Linked DNA regions of Homo sapiens. The protein of the gene in region 1 purifies or fractionates together with the protein of each later gene. This does not show direct contact. Each region holds a gene or a part of one and is shown on either strand. Other genes may lie near its edges.

The links.
Region 2: the proteins of PCED1A (region 1) and S100PBP purify together in Homo sapiens (affinity purification with mass spectrometry; one large-scale study listed by BioGRID and IntAct). This does not show direct contact.

The regions. Positions count from the first base shown.
Region 1 is NC_000020.11:2,836,773-2,842,138, reverse strand, and holds the start of PCED1A (PC-esterase domain-containing protein 1A), read left to right. Parts: upstream 1-1,483; 5' UTR 1,484-1,928; exon of another isoform or gene 1,929-2,205; 5' UTR 2,206-2,226; coding exon 2,227-2,350; intron 2,351-2,867; coding exon 2,868-2,947; intron 2,948-3,056; coding exon 3,057-3,295; intron 3,296-3,392; coding exon 3,393-3,543; intron 3,544-3,660; coding exon 3,661-3,907; intron 3,908-5,366. Other genes in the region: VPS16 (vacuolar protein sorting-associated protein 16 homolog), read right to left, coding at 1,312-1,364.
Region 2 is NC_000001.11:32,851,502-32,856,705, reverse strand, and holds part of S100PBP (S100P-binding protein), read right to left. Parts: intron 3,628-5,204; coding exon 3,540-3,627; intron 783-3,539; coding exon 668-782; 3' UTR 1-667.

The DNA.
Region 1 (5,366 bases):
AAAAACTTTAATGGGCAATTATTACATAGCAAGCACTGTTCTAAATATGCACTGGTGATAAAGAGAAGCAAGAAACATGCTTTTGGCCGGGCTCAGTGGTTCACGCCTGTAATCCCAGTACTTTGGGAGGCCAAGGTGGATAGATTGCTTAAGGTCAGAAGTTCAAGACCAGCCTGGCCACCATGGTGAAACCTCACCTCTAGCAAAAAATACAAAAATTAGCCGGGCGTGGTGACAGGGGCCTGCAGTCTCAGCCACTCGGGAGGCTGAGGCAGGAGAATCCCTTGAACCCGGGAGGCGGAGGTTGCAGTGAGCCGAGTGCCCCTGCACTCCAGCCTGGGCAACAGAGGAAGACTCTGTCAAAAAAAAAAAAAATGCTTTCAGCCCTGAAGGAGCCTGGTTTAGCAGAAGAAACCTATACAAATGTCGCCTAAATATACAAATAGACCATACCTAAAAGACCCTAGCACTGGGCCCAGTGAGGCCCACAGGATTCTATTGGGGGAGAATCAGGCACAGTTCCAGAAAGAACCCTTGAACTACTAAGTCCTGAAGGATGCGCAAAATTCTTCAGTGAGATAAAGAGAGAAATGGCAGTATCCACAGAAACTGCAGACTGGTTAGGGCCTTGTAATTCTGCGCAGCTGGAACGCAAGATTTGGGTAGGAGAGCGGTAGATGAGGTTGGAGAGACAAACGGGCTGCCTTACAGATAGACGTTCCACGAGAAGTTCGTAGTTTTTCCTATTAGGGAAGCTATGGGAAAATCCTAATCTGGGTAACGATGTAACGGGTTTACACTTTAGAAAAATCCGTGGTTTAGGACTCTACAACTCCCATGGGCGGGCTGCCCTAACCCAGGGGTTCCCACTTCCGCTGTTCCGGGATTCACGGACGACTCGCCCCCTTTTCCCAGCCTTGGTCAGCACTGTTACCCCGCCCGCCGTGCGATCCCGCCCCCCTCGGAGCGCCCCTGTGGTCTGACTTCAGCAGCACTTTCCGGCAGGAGACTGGGCACTCGCTGTCACCCGCGAGCTGCCTCCCTCAGCGAGATCTGAGCATCTTTCCGGAGGCTAACAGACCTGGGCTTCGGGGTGACCACTGTGCTTGCCTCAGTTTCCTTTTCTGGAGCAGGGGAAGGCCCGGCTCCCTGCCCAAAGGCGGCTGTGCGCTAAGTGGCAGACGCTCGGGGAGAGCCGGCGCGGGGCGGACCCCAGCGCCAGTAGTGACAGGGGCGAACGCCGCCGGGAGACTCCAGCCGGCGGGCGAGCAGGGTAAGCCAGGCCGTGGGCGGGAGGGCGGGGCAGCTCACCGGTAAAAGGCAGAGTCCCCGAGTGGGTTCCAGTTCGCCGTGTAGCAGTCCATGGCTGGTGCAGACGGCAGCTGGGAAGCACCGAGGGGACACCCACCTAGAGCGGGCTCCAGGCCGGCACTTCCGCTTCCGCCCGTCCGGGTCACGTGGCGAGGCCGCCGCCGCGGCCATCACCACTGTGGGCAGCCTCACTTGGCTGCCGCCCCGAGACCCCAGCCCGTACCTGGGCTTCGCGCCCGCCAAGTGGGCCCAGCCCTGGCTCCTGCGCCCTGTGGCGGCCACCTCCATCGCCTTGCTTTCCCTTCGGGCACTGGGGGTCGCTCAGGGCGGGACATGGGTGAACGGAAGTGGAAGCTGTGAGCGTCGCAGCCCGAGGCGCCGAGGCCTGAGGCGCCGTCGGGGCCACAGCGACGCTCGCATGGAGAGCGCTGGGCGCTGGGCTGTGCACCGACGGCTAACCTGGACCCACGGTCTCTGCGGGGCGGGAGCTTTGCAGAACCGACTGGCCGACTGGGGCGCGGGAACATGAGGCTTGGCTAGGAGCCCGCTGCGGGCCAGGCGCGCGGTGCGCAGGCATACCCGGGTCGCGGGTGAACACCGCGGAGCCCCGGGACTTGGTAATTGGCGCGAGCGGGTGCGCGCATGCGCGGGACGGCGGCGGGCACGTGGCGAGGCGCAGGGCGGCGCCGCGCGGGAAGCTCCCCAGTGCCCTGGAGGCCTGCTGGCTGGACGACCCCCTGCCTCTGGTACCAAGTGTGACCAAGGCTGGCGCCACCATGGCTCTGCTGCCGTCACCTCCTCCCTTTAGCATTGAGCAGCCCCGGAGGGGCTAGCCCTGAGGCTGACCTGCCCAGAGTCCCCACCATCGCGCTGCTTAGTGGCCTCTCCCTGCAGCCTGTCGTTGCTGGTGGCGGCATGGTCTTCTGTCTGTCGAGCGAGGAGCCGCGCCGCCCGCTGCGAAGCGACATGGTCCACTTCCAGGCCTCGGAAGTCCAGCAGCTGCTACACAACAAGTTCGTGGTCATCTTGGGGGACTCCAGTGAGTGCCTCTTCTAGGGTGACGCTTCCAGTCCCACACCTTGCAGCCCGTTCAGTGTGTCTGGACCATTTGTTTCCATCTCACATCTCTTGTCTGTCTTCTGGTCTGTTCCGTCCAGTAGGTTTTCTCTTTTTATGTCCCACACATCTTCCACAGGAGTCCTGACAGGTGTAATAACCTGTGCACTTTTTAGCCCATCCTTGCTCAGCATTTCTCGCCCTGACAGCTCCCCATAATTTCCATCACGAAAGCGTTGCATTGTGTAGTGTGTCTCCTGGGTGACTTGGCCGACTTAATTTCTGCCAGGTGATCTTGGGTCACTGTATACTGCTGGCCAGGAGGCACACAGAACAGAGGCAATGCCAGGACTTTTTAACCTCATCTTTTCTCCTGCGTCTAAGTCAACCACAGAGCTGGTGTCGGGCACCTCAGCCCTGGGAAAATGGGGTCCTGGACTTGGAAGGAGCTGGGGCAGGCTGAGGTCTGCCTCAGCCTTGGGATCTCTGTCTCCTCCCAGTTCAGAGGGCTGTGTACAAGGACCTGGTGCTCTTGCTCCAGAAAGACTCACTGCTCACAGCTGCCCAGCTGAAAGCCAAGGTGAGGGAAGCTTGGTGGCCATGTCAGTGGTGGGTGGGCACAGACCCTGGCCTGGCAGGGTTCTCCTCCCTGGCATGGGTCTGACCAGTAGGGTGGGGGGGGTGGGTAGGGGGAGCTGAGCTTTGAACAGGACCAGCTGGTGGCTGGGGGCCAGCTGGGCGAGCTGCACAACGGGACACAGTATCGTGAGGTCCGCCAGTTCTGCTCGGGCTCTGGCCACCACCTTGTGCGCTTCTACTTCCTCACTCGTGTTTACTCCGAGTACCTTGAGGATGTTCTGGAAGAGCTGACATATGGACCTGCCCCGGACCTGGTGATCATCAACTCCTGCCTCTGGGATCTCTCCAGGTTGGGGCGAGGGAAAGGGGAATACTGGTTGGGGCTGGAAGTACGGCTGAGGCAGTCCACCCTTGTGCTCTTGCCCACCCTGTGTGTTATCCAACAGATATGGTCGCTGCTCAATGGAGAGCTACCGGGAGAACCTGGAGCGGGTGTTTGTGCGCATGGACCAAGTATTGCCAGACTCCTGCCTGCTGGTGTGGAACATGGCGATGCCCCTCGGGGAACGTATCACTGGGGGTTTCCTCCTGCCAGAGGCAAGTGACTGAGGCCCATCAGGACAAGAGATGGGATAGCAGACTGGTAGATAGGACACCCTGCTTTCAGACCCTGCTGCGTTCTGTGGCTCTTAGAGGCTGCACTTTCTCACTTAGCTCCAGCCCCTGGCAGGCTCCCTGCGGCGGGATGTGGTTGAAGGGAACTTCTACAGTGCTACGCTGGCCGGGGACCACTGCTTTGATGTCCTAGACCTCCACTTTCACTTCCGGCATGCAGTACAGCACCGTCATCGGGATGGTGTCCACTGGGACCAGCATGCACACCGCCACCTCTCACACCTGCTTCTGACCCATGTGGCTGACGCCTGGGGCGTGGAGCTGCCCAAGCGTGGCTATCCCCCTGGTGAGCCCTACCATAAGTGGGGGGGTAGTGATGCACTGGGGCCCTCAGAGGACAGGGCTCAGAAACAGAATGGGACACAGCCACTCAAGGGAAGTAGAGGTCCCTTGAAGGACTCCTGTGGCTTCTGCATGCACCTTCCTCAACCCCTGAGGAGGGTTAGATCATCGGAGCAATATTCTTGTCCAAGTTCCAGTTTTCTACAGTCTGGCTGTGTAGTCATTTCTGTGTGCTTGAAGGAGCTTGTACAAGTATTGACCACATAAGGCAGCATGTTGCAAGGGTCCTACCCAACAGATTAACAGGAAAGAAATGGGGCATGGGTGTGAGGAGTGGAAAGACAGGGAGGAAGGGCCATCCAGGCAGTGTGGCAGAAGCAAAGAAGCCCACAGCTGGGGGGTGGGGGTACAGTCAACTGGCAGGGTGTGGAACAGGGATGTTGCATCGGGAAGGCCAGCCTTATGGACTTGGGCTCAATGGACAGTGTTCCATAGGCTTCTTAGTTCAGCCTCAGAGTCCCACTGTGACTGGTGCAGCTTGGTGTAGCTCTCCTCGGGCCCCATCTCTGGGCCTTTGGTGGAGGCTTCTGAGGGCCCCACTCCCCCTTGTTTTGAGGCACTGCTCCCCATCACATCTCAACTGTAACACTCTGCTGCAGAACCTCTGTTTCCATGTCAACACCCTAGTCCCTGCATGCACACAAAGAGGGCACCATGGCTGATTGTCTCCATGGCTGCTTCTCCCCTGCATCGTGTCCTTAAAGGGCAAGTTTCCTGCTGCACTTGTTGACGACTCACCCCTTTCAGCCCCAGTGTCTAGCACAATTTCCCTGTACACAGTATCAACAGAATTGTATTTGTTGAATGGGAGGCACGAGTCATGTTAGAAGGCCGATTATGGCAGCACAAGAGGATGTGGGGGCACAGAGAGTCCAGGAATATCATAGAGACAGACCTGTAACACTTGGTAGCCAGGAGTTGGAGCATCAGGGAGGTGAATACAGATTTTGGTTAAACATCCCCATTTTCTTGTTTAGATGTAATAATTGATCCCCAGCAAATGATGGGATGCCCTGAAGGTTGTAAGGCTAGTTTTGATGGCTTAGGCCTTTGAAATCCAATTTGGAGCTACAGAAGTTAGGGCCATGAAAAGGGAGAGTTGATTTGGGGTGGAAGGATGAGTTGGTGAGTTTGGTCACAGCAGATTGATTTGAGGTTCTTTGGAAATACAGAGTAGATTTGCAGTCATTGGTACCCAGCAGAGAGATTAAAACTGAGGGCACAGTGGCAGCTGTGAGGGAGACAGAACGATGCTCATGCTTTGGATTGGCAGGAAAGAGGGGCTATGGCGGAAACAAAAGGAGATGAGGGCAGGGGCACTTTTAGGAAGGACTGAGGCTGCTGGCAGTGTCACATGACTGTTGAGAAGAAGGGAATTTGTTAGCAAGTGGTTACATTTAGTA
Region 2 (5,204 bases), on another chromosome or scaffold:
GGAATGAAAAAATCCCCCCCACCCACAAAAAAAAATCAAGGCAGCTAGTACCTACAGAAGGGAGAGGAGAGGATTTACTATTTTAATTTGTCCTTTCAATAGGATTCTTCTCCTGCTCCATCCTACTTATAATGTCCTGGATTGCCAACTTTAAAATACTGACAGGTATTCAGAGGATTCAAATAAAAAAGTAAGAGGGGTTGTTAAAAGTAACTTATATCCATTCACAAGTTATCTAACACTGGCTCACAGCCTGGTAAAGAATCTCTTCCTTATGGAAGATTGAACAATGATTTCTTTGAGGTACCAGAAAGTAGACTTTGCCTCTGCAGAGAGGTGGGTCTTTTGCTTGAACCTGGGTGTTCTGGCTTAATGCTGGCTTTCAGGAGGCAGCTACCTTCAATTTAAATTAAAAAAACAAAAAAAAACTATACCAACCGAACGCTTGCTTAAACACAGACACACACACACAAAATCAGGAGGGACTTCATACAAAAAAATTCAAGTCGGCAATGGGCATTTCCAAAAGGTGACGAGTTTTTTAAATAAAAATTTTGTGAAAAATAAAATCCAAAATCGGCAAAGCACAAAACAGCAAAAGAACATGAAATGCTGCTCCAAGCAGGACCCTGGATAGGGACCTTCATTGCTGATGGGATGACACAAATTAACTGTACGAGAAGTCTGGGAGACGCTGGAACCGATGGTGGCTTCGCATGTTCCTGTCAACCCACTGAGTCAGACTGTATCTTTGCAGATGTTTCTGTCGGCGGGCGTAGTTTCTATCGAGAGAGGGAGAGTACAAACAGGAAGGCTATTTCAACTAGAATGGCTATTTGTACACAAAAAAAGGCCAGCACAACAATTTTAAGAAGATCTTTACTTTTGGAAATCAGATATTAATTTTATATTTCAATTCTCACAATTTTAGAAATTTTATACTATTTCATTTATATGAACACCACACCGTAAGTGCTATTTCTTTCCAACTCCCAAAGCCACCTAATTCCCATAGGTATTATGGTGATATGTGCCATATACACAATATTCTAAGGAAAACTAATGTAGAATAATGTTTAAGTAGGGGAGAAAAAAAAAACCATTTTATTCCTCCAGAAGAATTTAGGATAGGATCTATATTTTATTGTTTGCATCACACCTGTACCTCCAAAAGGACCTCATTGTCTGACACAGCTCAAGGTTGCTCAGGACACAGCAGTTAAAATTAGAATAAATTCCCAGAAAGGTAAGTCATCATGTGAGTTTAGAGACTGAAAAATTAACAGCACAGACTCACAGTAAAATTTCTTAAAAGTCTCATTTAGTTATGTGCTGGGCTGCAGTTCTGAGCAAGACGCTCTGAGATAATCTGATCCCATTTTTGACTCTGAAAGTGCTCCTAATAATCTAGGAAGCTTTCTGAAGATACGCATTCTAAAATTTAAAAAAAGAAAAAGAAAAAACAAATACAGATATGGATTCTTGGCCTCTCCCTCCTCCCAGACTTAATGACTTAGAATACCTGGAATCAGGATACAAACATCTGTATTTTTAGATATCTCCACAGGTAATTATGAGTAGTCGCCAGGGTTGAAAATAACTGTAACAGTACCTGACATTTATCTATCCCTATATGCAAGTACTTGCTGAATTCTTTAAATACCTCTCCTCACTTAATACTGTGACAATCCTACTAGTATTTTCATTAAGTCCTTGTATAGGTAAGGAAATTGATTGAGCCTCAGGTTAATAATTTACCCAAGGTCATAGAGTAGAGTAAGCAGAACTGGATTTGAATTCACATCTGACTCCAGAATTTATCTATTAACAATTACACTACACTGCCTTTCCTTCTGAGAAATGCTATGATTTTGACAACTACAGAGGGAATATGACTGTAAAGGCCCTGAAGCAAGAGGAAGAGTATTAGGAGATGAGGTCGGTGAGCATAGGCCAAAGCATATAGGCCTTTGTAGGGGATTACGAGAATGGGAAGATGTGAGATGGGAAGCCACTGGGAAATATTGAGCAAATGTGATTTATGCTTTAAAAGAATCTCTTTCTTTGGCTGCTGAGTTGTGAACAGTGCACTGGCAAGGGCAGAAGCAGGGAGGCCATTTAGGAGACTTGCAACAATCCAGGTCAAATGATGAGAAATAGTTAGGCTTTGGATATACAGCTGACCCTCCATATCCATGGGTTCTACATCCATGGATTTAACCAACCATGGGTCAAAAATATTCAAAGAAGAAAAATGAATGGTTCCATCTGTATCGAACATGTATAGACATTTTTCCTTGTCATTATTTCCTAAACAATACAGTATAACAACTATTTGCATAGCATTTATACTGTATTAGTTATCATAAGTAATCTAGAGATGATTTAAAGTATATGGAAGGATGTGCACAGGTTATGCAAACACTATGGCATTTTATATAAGGAACGTGAGCATCTGTGGATTTTGGTATCCAGAGAGGGTCCTGGAACTAATCCCTCATGAATACCAAGGACAACTGTATATGCAGAACCTATGGGATTTGCTGATAGACTGAATATGGGGTGAGAGAGAAAAAAGTAAAAGATGATTCCAAGGTTTTTGAGTATCTGAATCAAAGTAACTGAATAAATTTGTACAGCCACACTGCATCAAGAATCCAGAAAACTGTAATACTAAATTTGAGTCTTAAAAAAAAAAAATTCCAGAAGATTTCAGAATTAGGAAGGTCCTTTGACACCAAGTTGCAAAGCTAGTATTAGAACTCAGGTTTCCTGAATTTCAGTCCAGTTTTTGTTTTGTCTGTTTGTTTTTTGAGACAGGGTCTCGCCCTGTTGCCCAGGCTGGAGTGCAGTGGCACAATCATTGCTCATCACAGCCTCAAGCTCCTGGGCTTCAAGCAATCCTTTTCTCTCAGGCACTCTCAGGGACTACAGACACACACCACCATGCCCAGTTAAGTTTTTGTATTTTTTGTAGCGACGGGGTCTCACATTGGCCAGGCTGGTCTCGAACTCCTGGGCTCAAGCAATCCTCCTGCCTTGGCCTCCCAAAGTGCTGGAATTACAGGCGTGAGCTACTGTGCTCAGCCTCAGTCCAGTTCTTATTCCATTATACTGCATCACTTTTTCCCCCTGCCTCTTGAATTAAACAATTCCAACCCCTACTCCCCACTACATTCCTCCTGCAGCCAAATTTCACGCGCCCCCCCCCCACCGCCTTTTCTTTTTTTTTTTTTAGACGGAGTCTTGCTCTGCCGCCCAGGCTTGAGTACAGTGGCACCATCTTGGCTCACTGCAACCTTCGCCACCAGATTCAAGCAACTGTCCTGCCTCAGCCTCCTGAGGCTGGGACTACAGATGCTTGCCACCACACCCAGCTAATTTTTGTATTTTTGGTAGATATGGGGTTTCACCATGTTAGCCAGGATGGTCTCAAACGACCCACCCACCTTGGCCACCCAAAGTGCTGGGATTACAGGTGTGAGCCACCGCGCCCAGCCATTCTACCCTTTTCCATCTTCTTCTAATCACCCACTCACCGCGTGGTGAGGTCCGAAGGATGCTGCCATTTTGAGTGCTGCATATGATGAACTTGATCCATCAAGGCACAAAGCTCCCCCGAGATACCTGTGATACAGAGGGATCAGTGGTTAGGAACAGCTGAGTGAACTACGTCAGCCAACGTCAAAGTATGTGTTTTCAGGGAAAGAGAAAACAGGCACTGTTCTCAACAATATATACTTACAATTATCACAAGCAGTGAGCACAGAAACTATAAACCAGAATGGGGAGATTACTCTTGGAGGGTGAAGGTGAAGCAATAATAGCAGCCACCATTCATTCATTCAACACTTAGCTCCTACAATATACAGGGAACTTTACTTGTCCCTAGGAATATGGCAGTGAACAAGACACTACCTCAATGAAGTTTATACAGGAGACAGATGATTCCAAAGTGGTGTGATAAATGCAGTGATAGAAATACAGACTGCTATAGAGACTGGGGGGGTGGGGGTTAGGGAAAGCCCCCTCCAGGGGGAGTAACTATAGCAGGGATCTAAAGGATGTATAAAATTAGTGAGGTAAAGAGGGGTAGGAGGTTGGATGCCAAAAGATAACAGTTAATACAAAGCCCCAGAGACAAAAGACAGCAAATACATTCAAGAAACAAGAGGAGTTTAGAACAGATGGAGGTGGGCGCTCTTTGCTAACAAGAAAAATTGCTAGATGCAATTTCTCAAACACCTGGGATCCTAGCAATGTACTAGACACTTTACATATTATCTTACTTAATTCTAAAAAAAATCTTACATGGAGATAGATGTTATTAATATCATTTCAAAGATGGGAAACTATGGGAGGTGAACTTGCCTGAAATACTTTTTTTTTTTTTGAGACAGAGTCTTGCTCTGTCGTCCAGGCTAGAGTGCAATGGCATGATTTCGGTTCACTGCAACCTCTGCCTCTTGGGTTCAAGTGATTCCCCTGCCTCAGCCTCCTGGGTAGCTGGGACTACAGGCGCCTATCACCATGCCAGGCTAATTTTTATATTTTTAGTAGAGATGGGGTTTCATCATGTTGGCGAGGCTGGACTCCAATTCCTGACCTCAAATGATCCTCCCAAAGTGCTAGGATTACAGGTGTGAGCCACCATGCATGGCCCTGAAATTCTTGATGACCCAGGATTCAACTAGCTCCTGTGTGACTCCATGTCCTTGCCACTATGCAATAATGCTAATTTTGCACTCAACGATTGAGACTTAGGCTAAAACTCAATAGAAGCAGAAATAAAACACTAGTTAGGAAATAATTTCCCTAGACCAGTGGTTCGCAAATTTTAACATACATTATAATCAACTGGAGGTATTGTAAAACAGATTGCTGGGCCTAGCCTCCAGACTTTCTGATTATACATAATCAGAAAACTACAGATCTGGGTAGGGCCTGAGAATTTGCATTTCAAGCAAATTCCCAAGTGATGCTAATGCTGGTGGTCTAAGAAACACTTTTTTTTTCTTTTTTTTGTGGGTAGTGGGGTGGGAGATGGAGTCTCACTCTGTCACCCAGGCTGGAGTGCAGTGGTGTGATCTCGGCTCACCGCAACCTCCTCCTCCCGGGTTCAAGTGATTCTCCTGCCTCAGCCTCCTAAGTAGCTGGGATTACAGGCGCCTGCCACCATGCCTGGCTAATTTTTGTATTTTTAG